2 separate regions of the Homo sapiens genome follow, and region 2 is linked to region 1. A link means that fine-mapping ties the variant in region 1 to the expression of a gene that starts in the linked region. Tissue or cell type: whole blood. Region 1 holds a variant in brackets; the other region holds the start of a gene. All regions are shown on one strand. Distances are between the middles of the regions. Region 1 has its middle 14 kb from the start of GIHCG. Region 2 holds the start of ATP23 (ATP23 metallopeptidase and ATP synthase assembly factor homolog).

Region 1 (10,155 bases):
CCACATCGGTGACTGAGATAGTGACACTTTTGCTTTCTGATAGTTCAGTCTACACAAATTTTGTTTCATGCACAAAATTACTTAAAATATTGTGTAAAATTACCTTCAGGCTGTGTATATAGCTGTATTTGAAACACAAATGAATTTTGTGTTTAGATTTGGGTCCGATCCCTAAGATATCTCATTATGTATATGCAAATATTCCAAAATCCAAAAAAAATCCAAAATCCAAAACACTTCTAGTCCCAAGCATTTTGGATAAGGCATACTGAGCCTGTATATTTGATGTGTTTAATCCATTTCAATTATCATTCTCATTGATGTTGAAATTGTCCCATCTTTAGCCAATGGGAATCTTCTCAAAGTAACCTCTGAGTTCTTTGACATGACTATAAAAGTTTTTGACAGCTTCCTTGCCTTCTAAATAGCAAGATGTTCTAGACTCATCTTCAACATTTCCTGCCTCAGATGTGGAATCAGCATGTCTCCAAGGAACCCTAATTCTTCTCAGTGGGAAATGGTATTTTAGAGGCCACAATCTAGAATGGATGCTTATTCCTACTGGGTCATTCATGACCAGTTCATTGTTTCTAGACCTTTGCAGTGGGTGGAGCTAGGAAATGTTGTTGTTTTAAAGATATAAAACAACATGAGTTTTATTGCTGTATCCAATTCAAAACCAGGACTATCTTCATCAACCTCACATCTGTATCTCCTTTTCCCCTGTGCCTAAAATCCCACCGTAATTACCTATTTATTTTTCCCATCATGAATAGTCTCAGAATAACAATCTTCACAGCACCACCACAATATGATCACTGAACATAGTTTGGGTTTTTTGTTGTTGTTTTGGGGGGACTTTTTTGCAATTCTTTTTCTGATTAGGGTATATTCCAATAGGGATGTATAGTCAATTAGTATGTTTTAAAGTCACTTGGAGGCCAGGTGCAGTGGCTCACACCTATAATCCCAGCACTTTGGGAGGCCAAGCTGGGCAGATCACTTGACGTCAGGAGTTCAAGACCAACCTGTTCAACATGCTGAAACCCCATCTCTGCAAAAAATACAAAACTTAGCCGGGCAGAGTGGCACATGCCTATAATCCCAGCTACTTGGGAGGCTGAAGCAAGAGAATTGCTTGAATCCAGGAGGCGGAGATTTCAGTGAGCCAAGATTGTGCCACTGTACTCCAGCCTGGGTGACAGAGCAAGACTCCATCTCAAAAAATAATAATAATAATTAAAATAATAATAATAATGTTACTTGGAAAAGTTTCTCACGTGTGATTATGCCACTAGCTCAGTACACAGGCTGATGTGCTTAATTGTGATTTCAATTTTTAGGGGTTGCATTTTTAGTTTTAATTTTGTTTTATAATTATATAAATTATTTGTGTGGTTCTAAAGTCTATAAAACAAGGTCTATTTGAGAAAAATCTAGCTTCTACTTCATTCCATAAATGCACCCCCATTTCTTATTATATAAATGGCCATTTATTTTTATTGCTTGTCCTTCCATTTTTTAAAGTATAAGCAATATTTCAGATATATGTATATATATCCATCCTCTCTTTAAATATAAATGGCACTGGGTGCGGCGGCTCACACCTGTAATCCCAACACTTTGGGAGGCCAAGGCAGGCCGATCAGGAGGTCAGGAGTTCAAGACCAGCCTGGCCAAAATAGTGAAACCCTGTCTCTACTAAAAATACAAAAAATTAGTTGGGCGTGGTAGTGCGCGCCTGTAATTCCAGCTACTCAGGAGGCTGAGGCAGGAGAATCACTTGAACCCAGGAGGCGGAGGTTGCAGTGAGCCGAGATCATGCCATTGCACTCCAGCCCGGGTGACAGTGCTAGACTCTGTCTCAAAAATAAATTAATTAATTAATTTAAAAAATGGCAGCAGACTATGCACTCAATTCACTCATTTAAATTATGCAAGTCAGTGGTTTTTAGTATATTCACAAAGCTATGCAACCATCGCAACAATTAATTTTCAAACATTTTCATTACCCAAAAAGATATTCCCACCAGCAGTGTGGTTTCCAATTTATCTGAATCCTTGACACCATTTATTACTGTCCATTTTCTTTATTATAGCCATCTTAGTGGAAATGAAGTGGGATCTCATTGTGGTTTGGTTTGCATTTCCCTAATGGTCTATAATATTGATATGGTTTGGCTCTGTGTCCCCACCCAAATCTCATCTCAAATTGTAATCCCCACATGTCAAGTGAGGGACTTGGTGGGAGGTGTTTGGATCATGGGGGTGGTTTCCCCAATGCTGTTCTCTTGATAGTGAGTGAGTTCTCACAAGAGCTGATGGTTTTAAAGTGTGGCACTTCCTCGCTCTCTCTCTCCTGCTGCCATATGAAGAAGGTACTTGCTTCTCCATTCACCTTCTACCATGATTGTAAGTTTCCTGAGGCCTCCCCAGCCATGCAAAACTGTGAGTCAATTAAACCTTTTTCTTTATAAACTACCCAGTCTCAGGTAGTTTCCTTATAGCACTGTGAAAACGGACTAGTACAAATATGGAGCATCTTTCATGTGCGTTTTGGCCATTTGTATATCTTCTCTTTGAAGAAATGTCTGTTCAGATCCTTCACCCATTTATCAATTGAGTTGTCTTTTTATTGTTGTTTTAAGAGTTATTTATATTTTTCTGGATATAAGTCTCATCAATATTTAATTTGCAAATATTTTCTCCCATTCTATTGTCTTTTCTTTTTTCCTTTTTCTTTTTTTTTTTTTTGAGACAGAGTCTCACTCTGTCGCCCAGGCTGGAGTGCAGTGGCGTGATCTCGGCTCACTGCAAGCTCTGCCTCCCAGGTTCACGCCATTCTCCTGCCTCAGCCTCCCAGGTAGCTGGGACTACAGGTGCCCACCACCACTCCCAGCTAATTTTTTTTTTGTATTTTTAGTAGAGACAGGGTTTCACCGTGTTAGCCAGGATGGTCTTGATCTCCTGACCTTGTGATCCACCCGCCTCGGCCTCCCAAAGTGCTAGGTTTACAGGCGTGAGCCACTGCGCCCGGCCCCTATTGTCTTTTCTTGATGGTGTCCTTTGAAGCACAAAAGATTGGGGTTTTAAGGTAGTTTATTTTAATTTTGATCAAGTCCAATTTATCTGCTTGTTCATTTGTCACTTCTGGTGCTGGCATCATGTCTAAGAAGGCTTTGCCTAACCCAGCATCACAAAGATCTACTCCCACATTTTATTCTAAGATTTTCATAGTACTATTTCTACATTTAAGTCTATGATCCATCATTATGAGTTAATTTTTGTCTATGGCATGAGGTAGGGATCTAACTTTATTCTTTTGTATGTGATATTCAGTTGTCCTAGCACCATTTGTTAAAAAGACTTTTCCCTTTTTTCTGTGATGTAATTGTGTTGGCACCATTATTTAAAAAAACAATTAGCCACAAATATAATAGTTTAATATAATATAAAAACAAATACAATAGTTTTTATAGAGATTGTGTTTAATCTGTAAGTCAATTTGGGGACTATTGTCATGTTTGCAACATTAAATATTCCAATCCATGAACATTAGATGTCTTTCCATTTATTTATGTCTTCATTAATTTATTTTAAGCATAATCTTTTAATTTCTTTTTTAGTTTTCAGAGTACAAGTTTTGTACTACTTTTTGTTAAATTTATTCCTAAGTGTTTCTTTTTTTGCTGCTAATGTAAATGGAATTGTTTTCTTCATGTCATTTTCAGGTTTCTCCTTCATTTTTTGTCTTGTTTTGTTTTTGTTTTGTTCTTTAATAGGTTTTATTTTTTAGAGCAGTTTTAGGTTCACAGCAAAACTGAGCAGAAAAGTAAAGAGAATTCCCATCTGCCTCCTGTCCCCACACATGCATAGCCTCCTCCACCATCAACATCCCACACCAGAGTGGTAGGTACATTTTTTTACAATTGATGAGCCTACATATCATTATCCATCATTTGCATTAGGGTTCACTCTTGGGGTTGCACGTCCTTTGAGTTTTGACAAATGTATAATAACATGTCCACCATTACAGAATAGTTTCACTGTTCTAGGCCAGGCTTGGTGGCTCATACCTGTAATCCTAGCACTTTGGAAGGCCAAGGTAGATGGATCACTTGAGGCCAAGAGTCCAACACCAGCCTGGCCAACATGGAAAAACCCAGTCTCTACTAAAAATACAAAAAAATTAGCCAGGCATGGTGGCACGCACCTGTAGTCCCAGCTACTAGGGAGGCTGAGGCATGAGAATCACTTAAACCCAGGAGGCAGAAGTTGCAGTGAGCTGAGATCACACCACTGCACTTCGGCCTGGACTATAGAGCGAGACTCTGTCTCAAAAAAAAAAAAAAACAAAGTATAGTTTCACTGTCCTAAAAATCCTCTATGCTGCCTATTCATCCCTCCCTCCCCAATAACTACTGGCAAACACTGCTCATTTCACCGTCTTCATGGTTTTTCCTTTACCAGAATGTCATATAGTTGGAATTACACAGCATATACCCTTTTCAGCTAACTTCCTCTACTTAGTAATGTGCATTTAAGTTTATGTTGTTGTTGTTAGTTGGTTGATTTGTTTTTTTGTTTGGGACAGGGCCTCACTCTGTCACCCAGGCCGAAGTGCAGTAGCGCTATCGTAGCTCACTGCTGCCTCAAACTGCTAGGCTCAAGGGATCCTCCCACCTTGGCCTCCCGAGAAGCTGGGACTATAGGCACCCACCACCATGGCTAACTTTTCATTTTTTTGTAGAGACAAGGTCTCATTATGTTGCCCAGCTGGTCTCAACGTCCTGGACTGAAGCCATCCTTTCACCTTGGCCTCCCGAAGTGCTGGGATTACTGGCATGAGCCACCATGCTTAGCCACATTTAAGTTTACTCCATGTCTTTTCTTTTTTGTGGACATGGGTCTCACTATGTTGCCCAGGCTGGTCTCAAACTCCTAGGCTCAAGCAATTCTACCACCTCAGCCTCCCAAAGTCTTGGGATTATAGGCATGAGCCACCGAACCCAGCCTACTCTGTGTCTTTTCACGCCTTGATAGCTCATTTCTTTTTAGCACTGAATACATTCCACTGTCTGGATCTACCACAGTTTAATTATTCATTCACCTACTGAAGGGCATCTTGGTTGCTTCCAAGTTTTGGCAATTATAAATAATGCTGCTATAAATATCCACGTGCAGATTTGTGTGTGGATGAAAGTTTTCAGCTCATTTGGGTAAATACCAAGGAGCACGATCGCTGGATTGTTAGTAAGACTATGTTTAGTTTTGTAAGAAACTGCCCAACTGTCTTCCAAAGTGGCTACACCATTTTGCATTCCCACCAGCAATAAATGAGAGTTTTTCTTGCTCCACATCCTCACCCATATTTGGTATTTTCAATGTTTTAGATTTTGGCCATTCTAGTAAGTGTGGCACTTCCTTGCTCTCTCTATCCTGCTGGTGTAGTGTGTAGTGATATCTCATTGTTTTAATTAGCAATTCCCTGATGACATATGAT[G/A]TTGAGCATCTTTATACCTGCTTATCTGCCATCTGTATGTCTTCTTTGGTGAGGTGTCTGTTCAGGTTCAAGTGTCTGTTCAAAAAAAATTTTTAATCAAATTGTTTTCTTATTATTGAATTTTAAGAGTTCTTTGTTTACTTTGGATAACAGTCCATTTTCAGGTATGTCTTTTGCAAATATTTTCTTCCAGTATGTGGCTTGTCTTCTCATTATCTTGACCTCCTTGGGTTTTTTTAACTTAAATCTAGACCTAAAGATCATACCATAGTAGTAAATATACTTCTCACTTCTCTTTACAACTGCGATTATTTTCTTTGTTTATAGCTGAAGTTTTTCAAAAGGATTGTATATTTGTATAATTTAACAAGAAGCTATTTTGTATTTTGAAATAGATAAAATAATATGCCCATCAGATAATTACCTTCATTATGTTTTATGATGTGGCAAATATTAGTATATTTGAGATGCCAATAATTGCCTGCCTGCCCACATCTTCTAAGAGAATTTGTTTTGTGCACAGATTTTCTTTCCCTAAAGGATAATTTAGCCAGATGTAGCAGCTCAGACCTGTAATCCCAGCACTTTGACAAACGAATCGCTTTGAGCTGCTCAGGAGTTCAAGACTAGCCTGGGCAACATGGCAAAACCCCATCTCTACAAATACTATAAAAACAGCCGGGCATGGTGGTTCATGACTGTAGTCTCAAATACTCAGGAGGCTGAGGCTGAAGAATCGCTTGAGCCCAGGAAGCAGAGGTTACAGTGAGCTGAGATCATGCCACTGCACCCCAGCCTGGGCAACAGAGCGGACCCTGTCTCAAAAAAAAAAAAAAAAGATAATTTACTAGACCAAATAACCACTTATCATCACCATGACTGATCAGGCCAGGGAGTGCAACACTGCATTCAATACCATTCTCCCATTTTCCTTTTCCATCCTAATAGAAAAATTCCTTTGTTATCTTAGCCGAATGTATTATGACAGGCTGAGCACCTTCTCAGCCTAAGAGGATGAACCTTGATTAGTCTAAGTCAACCACGATGACTGTCATTTGCCTTGCTTAATCTGCCAATGAGATGTAAGGGGAAGTTTGTTGGACGCCTTCTGGAGACATTTTTCCCTGCCCTAAAAATGGAACACATAGGAACAGAAAACCAAACACCGTATGTTCTCACTCATAAGTGGGAGTTGAACATTGAGAACACATGGACACAGAGAGGGGAACAACACACACCAGGACCTGTTATGGGGTAAGGGGTGAGGGGAGGGAACTTAGAAAATGGGTCAATAGGTGCAGCAAACCACCATGGCACATGTATGCATACCTATGTAATACACTTGAACGTTCTGCACATGTATCCCATTTTTGTTTGTTTTGAGAAATTTTTTTTTTAATGGGACACAAGAGAAGGACAGTTCATTTTCAGTCTCCCAGTGTTGTCAACCCCTGTAATACCTGAAGCTATAACAGCCAACTTGGAATCATGAAAGAAACCAGCCTCAGTGGAAAAGCCAACCTGCTGAGGATGGCAGAGCAGAAAGATGGGAGACACCTGGGCCCCCAGGTAATGAGGTCACTGAAGACATGCTCTATCTCTAGATTGTTGTTATATATGATAATAAATGCTTAAATAACTTTGGATTGGGCTTTTTGTTACTTTTAGCAAGAGCATCACAACTGATCAAATCAGATACCTAGCTCAAGGGTAACCAATCCCTAGGCCTGCCATTGGACACAGAAATATGCAAGGTATCATTATTCACACTAATGCCAAAGCAGGGAGCTGAGGCCCACATATTTCTGCTTAAATCCAGAGCCACTCTCCAGCTCTAGTCTGTCTGATGCCTAATCCCAGTATGTCTCCTATTTGTCGAATGCCAGGAAAATTGGTCCCCCTTAGTACAATTATCACCCTTTGTTTGAACTAGCTTGAGTGGCTTATAACCAAATGAGTTTGATTAGAGCAATCTGGAAAAGTTAGTACCTTGGGAAATATCCTGCTTTCTTTAAAAAAGAGATGAAGCTTGTCACCTTTAGCCTGAAAGGCATTATAGATGCATTACGCTGCATTTTACTTTTTTAGCTACCCCTATAACAAACTAAAGGAACTAAAGACAGTCCATTTGACGGGCAAATATGGAATCTGGCCTAAAAACTTCACAGAAAATGTTATAGTATATTTTATATACCATGTTTTATATACTTTTCAGGAAGATATTTTAGTACATATGTGAATTATATGTATTTATTTTGTTTTTGCTGAACCTTTTGAGGCTTATTGCAGAGATTATGACCCTTCTCTCCTAAGTACATCAGCATGTATGTACTTAGGAGAATATGAGAAACCAGCCTCAGTGGAAAAGCCAACCTGCTGAGGATGGCAGAGCAGAAAGATGGGAGACACCTGGGCCCACAGGTAATGAGGTCACTGAGGACATGTCTTATCTCTAGATTATTGTTATATATGATAATAAATGCTTAAACAACTTTGGAAGTCATTTAATATACATTCTATCTTCAAATTTCCCCAGTTTTCCCAATATTATCCTTTATACAAATCTTTTTTTACAATCTAAAATCACATATTTCATGTAGTTGTCATGTCTCTTCAGTCTCTTTTAATCTGGAACAGTTTTTGGCCTTGCTTTGTCTTTCATGACAGTGACATTTTTGAAGAATACAGGCCCATTGTTTTGTCCCCATTGTTTCCCTGTGATTCAATTAAAGTTATACATTTTTGGCAGAGACACTACATAAGCAATTTATGTTCATCACATCAGGACACACCTACAGTCAGTTTGTATTATTTGGGAGGATGTTTTTGACCTTGATCACTTGATTAAAGTGGTTTCCACTAGATTTGTCCTCATTTTTTCTCCTTGTATTTAATAAATAATATGTAGGAATATACTTTGGGACTGTGTAAATATCCGCTTCTCCAATAAATTTTCTACCAACTTCCAGCATCCACTGACAATTCTTGCCTGAATAAATTATTACTACTGTAATTGTTGCAGGTGTGACTATCTAGGGCTAGTGGCGCAGGCTGTAAAGGAATTTACCAAGACAATTGTAGGTAAAGAAAGGAAGATTAAGATATGACAATTGCCTTGCAAGGATGCAACAGGCAGCACAGCAGAGAAGGAGTTCTGTGTGCAAAGCTCCTGCAAAGAGGCAAGGGCTGGAAGGAAGTTTTATAGGGCCATGCTGGAGGGAGCTACTTGCGGAACAGGTGTTTGTGCCACAAGGTCGTTGTGCCCTTGGGTTGTTTGATTAGCCATCTCTCAGAACAATTTTTCACTGTTCTTCCCCACCTGGGGCCCCTTTCGTTGCTGTTGCATACTTAACAGTACTCCACAGTAATTGCATAAATGGTGACTTTCTAACTCATCATTACTTCTACATTAGTTGACACCCTGCTCTAAAAAGCCCTCCTTCTCCCTTCCCTATCTGCATTTGCTTGCTTGCTTGCTTGTTTTTTAGTGTCAGTATGAATTCACGGATTCTATTTTATTCAGTGGGATGTAATCCATTAATGTCACCACTTATTTTGATGCTCAAATTATCCCAGGTTTAGCCAGGGAAAGCCCATCAACTGGCTTCTGTGTCATTTTGACATAATTTCATGCTTTTTTAGCACTTCTTTACTTTCTGGCCTAGCAAGTTTTTCAGGCCCATGTTGCATTTTCCCTCCTCTAGCCATGAAAACAGTCCCATCTTCAAGAAGCTCTGGTTCCTTATAGCAGAGAATGATTTTTTGAAAACAAGATTTGGAAACCAAATCTCTTCATTGAAACTTGCTCTTTCAGCAAACATAGCTAGGATGTTGTTTTGTTTTGTTTTGTTTGTTTTAAAAAGAGAGAGAGAAAAAAAAGCATGAGTCCATGCCAATCCAGCACCACCACAAGGTTCTTCCTTACCTTTCCCCATTCTGTATTGGAATCTCCCTCCTCTAAGCAAGAACTCTGGCTTCCAACAATTATTAATGTAATTATTTTCTCAGTACTATAAGATACAAAAAATAATTTCAGAACTGCTACACCTGTGCCACCACCAACAATAAAGCTGTCAAGTAGAGCTCAAAATTTCTCACAGCTCTTTTGTTTTTAAACTCAGGATATATAGTCAAGATACTTTGTCCAAATGTTACTTGAGTAAGTTGGGTTTCTTTTTCCTTCTGTGTGATTCTCCATTTTATGTACAGTTCAGTTTCTTTGTTTCTATTTGTATCCAATTTTAGGACTTCTTCCCCAAAATTGTTGATTATTTTATAAACATGTAAAGCATTAACATGATTCCAAAAGTCAAAATAATACACTGGATTGGAAATGTGTCATTCTCTCTCCGTATTACTTCCATTCTGTTCCCACTCTCCCCCTGCAAGTAACAAATTTCAGTCCTTTCTGTTTTGTCCTTCTAATATGTCTTTTTCTTAAAAGGAAGTAGATATATGTGTATTGTGTCCCCCTATTTCTTATCTATGGTAGTGGCATACTATTATTCTCTTTTGCTCTTTGCTTTTTTCACTTGCAGCAAAGCCTGAAAATCACTCCTTAAAAGCTGCCTAATATGCTATTATGTGTATGTAATATAATATAATTTATTCACTCTGTATTCTCGTGTATACACATTTAGGTTATTTCCATT
Region 2 (10,155 bases), 21 kb before region 1:
GGCACTAAGATAAGCAACTCTATAAGAGATATCTCATTTAATTCTCATAATCATTCCATAAAATAGATACAATCGTTGCCCAAATTGTACAGATTAGAAAACTCCCCTAATAAAAAATTTTCACAGGCAGTATCAATTCTCACCACGTAAAGGTAAAAACCCTTTAATTTAGCATTCAAAACCTCCCACCATAGGGCTTACATTTCCTTCCAATCCTATTTTCCCTCATTCCCCACATGTTCCTGCCCTCCAGATAAACTAGACAATATGCCATTCCCTACACATGCCATGCAGTTTCGTAGCATGCACTTTTGCTCATGCTGCCCCTGCTCTGTCCCTGCTCTGCCCCTAAGGAGGCTTTATATCCTCTAGTCGAATCTGTTGGCATCTTTCAATCGATCACATCACTGTTCCATTGTGGTAACCAAGCCCACCTAAAATGGTTTAGCTTGCCTCATTTTATAATTATCTGTGTTCATGTCTTATCTTTCCTGTAAGGCTGTAAACTCCTTAAGAGATTTTAAGAGTAAACTCCTTAGAGTAAGGATAACTAATTCACTTTTTTAGTCCTACATAAAGTCTACCAAACAGAATGCCGAGCATGTGGAAGATGCTCAAAAAATATAAAGAGAGAGGATTAAAGGGAAGGAAACAATTTGGCAATAATGCCTACCTGAGATGTTGAAGCATCAAAACCTCCACTGACATTTCCATTACAGTCTTCGCAAGAAAAGTGTCTATCTTTGTTAACAGCACTAAAAGGCAAGAAAAGGAGACAATGTCCAGAAACAGTGTGTATGTGGCAAACAGCCCTGGGCCAGGGCTCAGGAGACCCTCCACCATATAGTAAATCCCCTCTACTACTAACACATAGGAAATCTTGGGAAAGAAACAACATCTTCAGGACTGTTATCTCACCTGTAAAATAAGGAGGTTGTACACAAAATCCATTCTAGTTCAAATTCTATAGATATGATTCCATAAAACATTTGTCCCCCAGGCGCGGTGGCTCACGCCTGTAATCCCAGCACTTTGGGAGGCCGAGGCAGGTGGATCACCTGAGGTCGGGAGTTCAAGACCAGCCTGACCAACATGGAGAACCCCCCATCTCTACTAAAAATACAAAATTAGCCGGGTGGTGGTGGGCGCCTATAATCCCAGCTACTCAGGAGGCTGAGGCAGGAGAATCTCTTGAACCCGGGAGGCGGAGGTTGCGGTGAGCCGAGATCGTGCCACTGCATTCCAGCCTGGGCAAAAAAAAAGAGCAAAACTACGTCTCAAAAAAAAAAAAAAAAAAAAAAAATTTGTTCAACTGATTATGGCCATATTGCAAGTATGCTGGAGTTCCTGCCCTTGGGCCAGAATGTTAAGAAGTGGATGTCAGAAGTCACTTCCTTTAAACCCCTCAAAGTTATACAACATCTGCAAGGTTCCTACATAACAAGCTGAGATTTCTTTTCCATTAAAAACAGTGCTCAGGCTGGTGTAGCAGAAAGGCCAGGCTTGGTAATTACTTACAAGAAAATTTTGAGTACTGTCTTTATTAATCACCCAAGGTGAATGGTAAGAACTAGAAAATGAGCTGGGCTGGCGCAGTGGCTCACACCTGTAATCCCAGCACTTTGGGAGGCCGAGGTGGGTGGATCACTTGAGGACAGGAGTTCGAGACCAGTCTGGTCAACATGCTAAGACCCCATTTCTACTAAAAATACAAAAATTAGCCGGGCATGGTGGCGTGCGCCTGTAAACCCAGCTACTTGGGAGACTGAGGGAGAAGAATTGCTTGAACCTGGGAGACGGAGGTTGCACTGAGCCGAGACAGCACCAACGCACTCCCACCTGGACAACAAGAGCGAGACTCTATCCCCAAAAAAAAAAAAAAACATGAGTTAGGGCAGAAAATGTCCAAAGAGAACAAGGCCAGCCCGGAGACAATGCAGCCAATTACCTCTATTTACCCTATGGAAAAGACTTTGTGACCTCAGAGAAATCTTAAGCAGTTCTCTTAAGAAGAGAACTTGGTTTTTGTTTTCAGCAGCCAGACCTCAGAGCAGCACTTCAAAAAGAGTTACTTACCAACCTGAGTGTTTCATAGCATCAAGCAGAAGTTTGACATATGGATCTAAAAAAGATATTGATTTAATTAAGTAATTGGAAAAGTAGCACCAATTAAACTACCCAAATAGCAGTGTAAGATATTATCAAAAAGTAACTCACAGGCCAGATGCAGTGGCTCATGCCTGTAATCCCAGCACTTTAGGAGGTTGAGGCGGGTGGATCATTTGAGGCCAGGAGTTCAAGCCCAGCCTGACCAACATGGCAAACCCCGTCTCTACTAAAAATACAAAAATTAGCTGGGCATGGTGGCACACGCCTGTAGTCCCAGCTACTTGGGAAGCTGAGGCATGAGAATCACTTGAACCCAGGAGACAGACATTACAGTGAGCTGAGATCACACCACTGCACTCCAGCCTGGACGATAGAGTGACTCTGTCTCAAAAAAAAAGTAATGTTATCTTAAAATTGGTAAAAATTGACATGAGAGGCCAAGCTTAAATCAACATCAAAGCAAGTTTGTACTGAAATAAAACACTAATACAAATACCAAGATGGTACTACTAAGCATCTTAGACAATATCAACTATGCTTTTAAAGTTCATTTTTAGTTAAATGATCAAACACGTTGTATTACGGTATATACCAAAAGACTGAGGGAATCTAGGGCCACATTCTTAGAAGTGAACAACAGCACAGTACCTAGATTTGAGGAAGCCAGTAGCCACACTGTTCTGTCCTGATCAGATCATACCGGCAATACCATGTCCCATGCTGAGTACTACCACCTTCTAAATTGGACCTGCCACTGAAGCTCTTCCACAGGGGATGGTGACTAGGGTACTACAGACTATTTCCAGTAAGAAGCAAGAAAGGATTTGGGGGGTTGGAAAGGAGACAGAAGACTTAACTAGGACCACACTACTTTCAAGTATTGAAGGGGTGCCATGTGGGACTAGATTCAGTTAATATTTCTTCAAAGGGCAGAACAAGGACCAAAGTATGGAAGTTACATGTGGCAGATTTCAGCTCAGTATGAGAAAGGATTTTTCTCCAACAATTAAAGCTGGTGAAACAATAGACAGTAGATTGAAAGAGCCTCAAGGAACAGGTAACTGTATTCCAGGAGAGGTCTGTAGAGTATCTGGCCAGCAATAGCACAGAGGTTTCCCTGTAAGGGGACGGGGAGGCCTAGACGATTCCTGAGGGCCCTTCCACATCTAAGACTCTATGGGCCCGTGACTACTACAGGAAAGTACAAGGAGCCCAAATGCCTCTGATATTAACTTTTCACATAGGCATCTTGTCTGAGAATATAAATGCACAGCCAATTATATGATGTAACCCAAAAAAAGTGAAAAAGAAACTAAGGTTTAAAAAAAATGTTGAAGGCAAAAATAGGTGAGAAAAAGAAATGTGAGATGAGAAAGTCAGGTATAGGTTACTGCTTTACCAACCTGCCCCTTGCAAGAGTGTTCACAGTAGAATAATTATTGTTAACAATACGTATTATTGAGTGAATACCAGGTAGCAGGCACCATATTAAGCACATTATTATTCATGCAACTAGGAGAATTTTACAAAATTAAAACAGTTTCAAAAGTCTGTAGTCCTTGTACTTAAAAAAAAAAAAAACCATGGTTTAGTACTTCAAAAAGGACCTGCAGCAATATTTAGAATAAAATTGCTTTGGTGAAAAAAAAAAAAAAAAAAGAGACTCCCATGAGGTCTGGTTTCCACCACCACGCCCCACCCAGGGATAGCATTTTAAAGCTGCAGGTTGACACTTTAATACCACCAAAAGACCCTCCCAGCCACCCTGCCCTTGGAAGATCAAGGTCCATTGATTCCTACTGGGGCTCATGTTCAGCACCCCACCTTCCTCACATCCTATCTATTTCCACTCTTCCTCCACTGTGTGGCCCTTCCACTGTAAAAACAGCTACCATTTATTCAGCTCAGCTCCTGATATGCTGGTACTTTACATTCATAAAATCAGTACTTTTTTTTTTTTTAGACAGGGTCTCGCTCTGTTGCCCAGGCTGGAGTGCAGTGATGCAATAACAGCTCACTGCAGCCTCAGCCTCCTGGGTTCAAGCAAATCTCCTGCCTCAGCCTCCTAAATAGTTGGGACTGCAGGCATGAGCCACCACATCCAGCTAATTTTTTTTATTTTTTGTAGAGACAGGGTCTCCCTATATTACCCAGGCTGGTCTTAAACATCTGAGCTCAAGCAATCCCCCTGCCTTGGCTCCCCAAAGTGCTGAGATTACAGGCATGAGCCACCGTACCCAGCCCCATAAAATCTATTCTTCACAACAACCCTAAAAAAGGTATTTTCCCCTTCTCTTTTTTTACAATAAGGATAGTGAGGATCAGAGAAGTTAAGTCACCTTCCACACCTGAGGAAAGGGATCCGCATTTGAACCCACATCTAACTCTGCAACCCATACTCTTTCCACTCTATTCCACTTTGAAGCACCTTCAAGGCAGGGTGCTAACTCATCTTTCTACTTCCCCCACCAGAACCTGGGAGGCACTCAATACATATTTGTACAGTAAATACAATATCATCATTCTCTCCCCTTTTACCCTCAACTCCCCTTCCTCCTCCTACCTCCCTGAGTCTCTACAAGCAGGTAATCCCAAGAAGGTTGGAAAATCTTTCGGTGGTTGACTTTTGAACTGTGACTGACTAGCTATGAAATAGTAACCTTGCTTTGGGACAAGTATGTTTAAGACTAATTTTCTGAATGTATCTGAAAGTAAACTTAAGAAGTCTATGTCAATGTAAAGGAATTAAGAAATCTTCTCTAGTGCAATGTCTCTGGGACGGGAGAGAAATTTGTCAATGGGCAGTTGTGTCCCTGTTTAACCCACAGCAGTTCTTAACCTTTGTGGGGTCGTTGGCCTCTTTGAGAATATGATGAAGCTATTAACTCTCTCCCCCGACCAAAAAAAAATACACTTTGGGCCGGGCGCAGTGACTCACGCCTGTAATCCCAGCACTTTGGGAGGCCGAGGCAGGCAGATCACGAGGTCAGGAGATCAAGACCATCCTGGCTAACACGGTGAAAACCCGTCTCTACTAAAAATACAAAAAATTAGCAGGGTGTGGTGGCGAGCGCCTGTAGTCCCAGCTACTCGGGAGGCTGAGGCAGGAGAACGGCGTGAACCCAGTAGGCGGAGCTTGCAGTGAGCAAAGATCGCGCCACTGCACCCCAGCCTGGGCGACAGAGCGAGACTCCGTCTCAAAAAAAAAAAAAAAATGCACTTAGGGGCACACACACACACATACACACGATTTCACAGACCATTTCAGGGATTTCTACGCTCTGAAGCCCATTCATGCATGAACCACTTCCAAGGAACGGTAGGTTTGCAAAACTGCTTTTATATTTTTACAGCCTTGGTATGCCTTAATTACATTTTTACATTTTTACAGCCTTTGTGTGCCTTAATTAACCTGGCTGGCACTTTAAAACTTGGCCTCACCCTTACCCTGAAGTCACAGTGTGGCTGCATAACTTATGTAAGAAATCGGAGGATCTGTCACAACAGTGAGTGACAAAAAAGGGCAGACAAATTCATTCCACAAGCCAAAAACAGCGACGAAAAGGGTCTCAGCGCCACCTCTAGTGGGGAAACTGAGCCTCAGGCTCCCAACCCAGCCCCCATGATGCCCAGTCTGTCTAGACTCTGTGCTGAACCTGAAGCCCCTGGCCAGGTGTTGCCCAGGCCCTTCCTCGCCCACCCGGTCTCAGACCCATTCTGTGGAACCACAGCCTCCAGGTCATGGCTCCTACTTGTCTCCAGCGTCTTCAGGAGCCTAAGCTGGCACTTCTGGTTGCTGGTGAAGAAGCTGGAGAAGAACCCTTGCTGGGGATTCCCCTGGGCCAGACGCTCGGGGAAGACCTGGCAAGAGACGTGTTGCTGCTGCAGCTGCTCCCCTGCCGCGGGGCCCCGCCGGCGCTCGTCCGGAGCTCCCGCCATGCCTCCCGCAGACCTCGCCGCTGCTTCCTCCTGGCTCAGGCGGCCAGAGCGAGACTGGGAAAGGTAACCTCCCTCCCGCCAACGCGACCGCCCAGGCCCTCCCTCCGCAGGGAAGAAGGGCAGCCTGGCTGGGCTGAAGACGTTAGGCGGGAGGGGGCTTTGAACCTGACGGGGAGCGCGGGAGGCGGGGCGAGAGGCGAGGGGCGGGGCGAGAGGCGAGGGGCGGGGCGAGGGATGAGGGGCGGGGCGAGGGCATGGGGCGGGGCGCGGGGCCCGATGCTGTTGGGCGGAGCTGGGTCTTGCGACTTCCCTCAAAGGCTGTAACAACCCGGCTGCCGCGGATTTCGCTGCTGCCCTCCCAGTGTGGGTGACATGTCTTTATAAGCGTTGTTCTGCAGCTTCCTGCTGCCTGCTGAGCTCTAAGGGTGTCCCGCCTCCTCGCAGACACTCCTTCCTCACCTCGGGGCGAATATTGGCCACTAACTGCTCTTGTGCCGCCGAAGGTCTCGGCCATCCTCCCACTCCCTGCCTTCTTCCGGGGCAAGCCAGTTGTCATTTCTGGCCCGCCACTTTCCCGACCCCTGCCATCCCTCAGATCCACTCTGCCCAAAGATGCCTCTGGCCATATTGAAAGCAGTGTTTTTCAGAAACGTTTTAAAACTATAAAGAATGACTAGTCACATCAAAATCCTCAAAATGTAGGAACCAACTACATTTTTTCTTCCCACCTGTACCCATTCGTTTACCCTACTCTTCTGCCCCACCCCCCACCAATAACTCCCTGATAACAAAGCGCACCCTGTTTACTTCTACCTCTCAGCCTTAACTCATACTGTCATTTCCATCTTTAAGCTCCTTGCCTCAGCCCCTATGATTGGGGCCCAGGTCAAATCTGCCTACTCCACAGGGCATTCCCAGATACCTTAATCAAAATTAATGTCTCCTGATCTCCCAATGTACAAAGCACTTTGTACCTGTTAATCATTTTCATCGTAGCCTGCCAGGTTTTATCCAATTTGTGTGTTTCTCTTTTCCTACTAAATTATTCCACTCAGCTCACACATTTATTCAGCACCTACTATGATGGGCCAGGCAAGGTGTAAGAGACTGAGGAAACACATGACTAAGAAAATTGCTAAAGATGAAGAGCAGCATGTGGTTTATGTAAGAAACATATCTGAAAAATATAGGCTCAGCAGGCCTTTAGGGTTATGAACAGTGCTTTATGTGTCATAGATGCTCAATATCTAAATTGAGTGGGATGCTAGGATAGTCATTCATCTGGAATATTATAAAAATACAAACAACTCCTATGTACATAGACTATTAAAGCCAGAAGTCAAAAAAAAAGTAACTACTTTTTAATTAAATTCACCTTGGATACATTATTTCCAATCCTCACTACAACCCTGCAAAGTAAGTATTATCTCTAATTTGCAGATAAAGTGGGCTCAGCAAAATTCAATAATTTATCTAGGACCACACAACTAGCTTTCAATCCAGTTATTGAACTAAAACACACATATGGAAAACTAAGCCATTACAATTCAGTGTGATTAGTTTGGAATACTGAAGGCAGGCTAGATATGCCTAGAAATGGACCATAGCCTATATACATTTGAAATACTATTTGGATTTTTTTCATGCTTTCTTTTTTAATACATAGATTCAGGTGGTTTATGTGTAGGTTTATTATACAGATATATTGTGTAGTGGTGAGGTCTGGGCTTCTAGTGTACCCATCACCCAAACAGTGAACATTGTACCCAATAGTTAATTTTTCAACCCTCACCCTTCCCCTCCCACTCTCCCCACTTTTGGAGTCCCCAGTGTCTATTATTCCCCTCTGTATGTCCACGTGCACTCAGTCTTTAGCTTCCACTTATAAGTGAGAACATGGGGTGTTTGATTTTCTGCTTCTGAGTTATTTCACTTAGGATAATGGCCCCCAGCTCCATCCATGTTGCTGCAAAAGACATGATTTCATTATTTTTATGGCTGCATAGTATTCCGTGGTGTATGCATAACCACATTTTCTTTAACCATCTGTTGGTGGACACTTAGGTTAATGGTTGATTCTATGTCTTTGTCTTTTTGTCATAACAATTTCTTCTTTTTTTTTTCTTTTTCAGAGACAGGTTCTTGCTCTGTCACCCAGGCTGGAGTGCAGTGGCGTAATCATAGCTCACCACAGCCTTGAATTCTTGGGCTTAAGCAATCCTACCACCTCAGTCTCTCGAGTAGCTAGAACTACTGGCATGCACCATCATGTCTGGTTAACTTTTTAATTTTTTGTAGAGATGGAGGTTTTTTGCTATATTGCTCAGGCTGGTCTCAAACTCCTGGCATCAAGTGATCCTCCTGCCTCAGCCTCCCAAAGCTCTAGGATTACAAGCATGAGCCACCACACCCAGTCACAATTTGTTTTCCTTTGGGTAGCCAGTAGTGAGATTGCTGGGTCAAATGGTAGTTCTATTTTTAGTTCTTTGAGAAATCTCCATACTAGTTTCCACAGAGGTTGTACTAATTTACATTCCCACCAACAGTGTATAGGCAATCTCTTTTTTCTGAATTCTCATCAATATCGGGTTGTTTTTTGACTTTTTAATAATAGTCATTCTGACTGGTGCAAGATGGTATCTCACCGTGGTTTTAATCTGCATTTCTCTGATGATTAGTGATGTTGAGAAGTTTATCATGTTTATTAGCCACTTGTATGTCTTCTTTTGAGAAATGTCTATTCCTGTCTTTTGCCCACTTTTGAATAGGGTTATTTAGTTTTTTCTGGTTGAGTTCCTTGTAGATTCTGGATATTAGTCCTTTGTTGGATGCACAGTTTGTAAATATGTTCTTCCATTCTGTAGGTTATTTGATTCTTTATCTTACTATGCAGAAGCTTTTTAGCTTAATGAAACTCATTTGTCTGTTTTTGTTTTTGTTGCATTTGCTTTTGAGGACTTGCTCATAAATTATTTGCCTAGGTCAATCTCCACAAGAGTTTTTCCTAGGTTTTCTTCTAGGGTTTTTATTGTTTCAGGTCTTAAATTTAACTCTAATTCATCTTGAGTTAATTTTGGTATATGGTGAAAGAAAGGGGTGCAGTTTCATTCCTCTGCATGTCTATCCACTTTGTGTAGCACCATTTATTAAATAGAGTGTCTTTTCCCATTATATGTTTTTGTTGTCATTGTCTAAGATCAGTTGGTTGTAGGTATGTGGCTTTATTTCTGGATACTATTTGCAATACCCTTCAGCTACAGGAATAAGTAAAAACGTACAAACCAAAAGCTGCAACATTTCCTTACTAAATTAGCTAAAACTGTTTCAATACTCATTGTTGAAGAAACAGATGGAAAAAAATTCATACCACAGTATCAATGGTTGTCTAGGTATTGGAATTTTTTTGTTACATTCTCCTGAAATTTTCTAATGTTCCTCAATAAGCATGTATTACCTTTATAATCAGAAAAATAAACTTTAAAAAATCAAGTGGGCTTTGGATGCCATGTGTAACTTCATCTGTATACAGTATAAAGACATAGGTATGGAATAAAAACACATTAAGGAAGAGATAATGAACAGCAAATACAAATGAGTTTTAAAAAGAAAAAGAATTACCACAAAGAAATTAGAGCAAGGGCAAAGATTTAGCTATAAGGATTTTCATTTCTCCATTGCAGCACTAATTGAGAGCAAAAATGGCCAGGCCAGTGGCATGTAATCATAGCTATTTGGGAGGCTAAGGCAGGAGGACTGCCTGAGCCCAGAAGTTCAAGACCAGCCTGTGTGATACAGCAAGACACCTCCTCCTCAAAAAAAAGGGGCGGCAGGGGAAGACATCAATTGTTTAAATATCCAACAAGAGGTATAATGGAATATATACAACCATGTTAAGTGTCTTTTTTAAACAAAATATGTTCATTAAAAGTTTTTGGGTGTTTTGTTTTGTTTTTTTGTTTTTTTGTTTTTTGAGCCAGAGTCTTGCTCTGTCGCCCAGGCTGGAGTGCAGTGGCGCCATCCCGGCTCACTGCAACCTCTGCCTCCTGGGTTCAAGCAATTCTCCTGCCTCAGTGAGCTGGGATCGCGCCACTGCACTCCAGCCTGGGC

Evidence for each region. PIP is the estimated chance that this variant, and not a neighbour inherited with it, causes the effect.
Region 2: it holds the start of ATP23, and the variant in region 1 is fine-mapped to the expression of ATP23 in whole blood (INTERVAL, PIP above 0.99).

What each region holds. Positions count from the first base shown.
Region 1 is chr12:57,916,904-57,927,058 of GRCh38, reverse strand. No RefSeq gene overlaps it. Among named protein-coding and RNA genes, the nearest start is that of GIHCG, 14 kb to the left of the region's middle. The variant G/A (reference allele first, on the strand shown) is at 5,504.
Region 2 is chr12:57,937,595-57,947,749 of GRCh38, reverse strand. ATP23 (ATP23 metallopeptidase and ATP synthase assembly factor homolog) reads right to left here and starts at 6,183. Exons shown (of 6, transcript NM_033276.4): 1 at 5,862-6,183; 2 at 2,077-2,122; 3 at 674-755. The coding sequence starts at 6,048. RefSeq lists enhancers at 4,879-5,048, 5,505-6,314.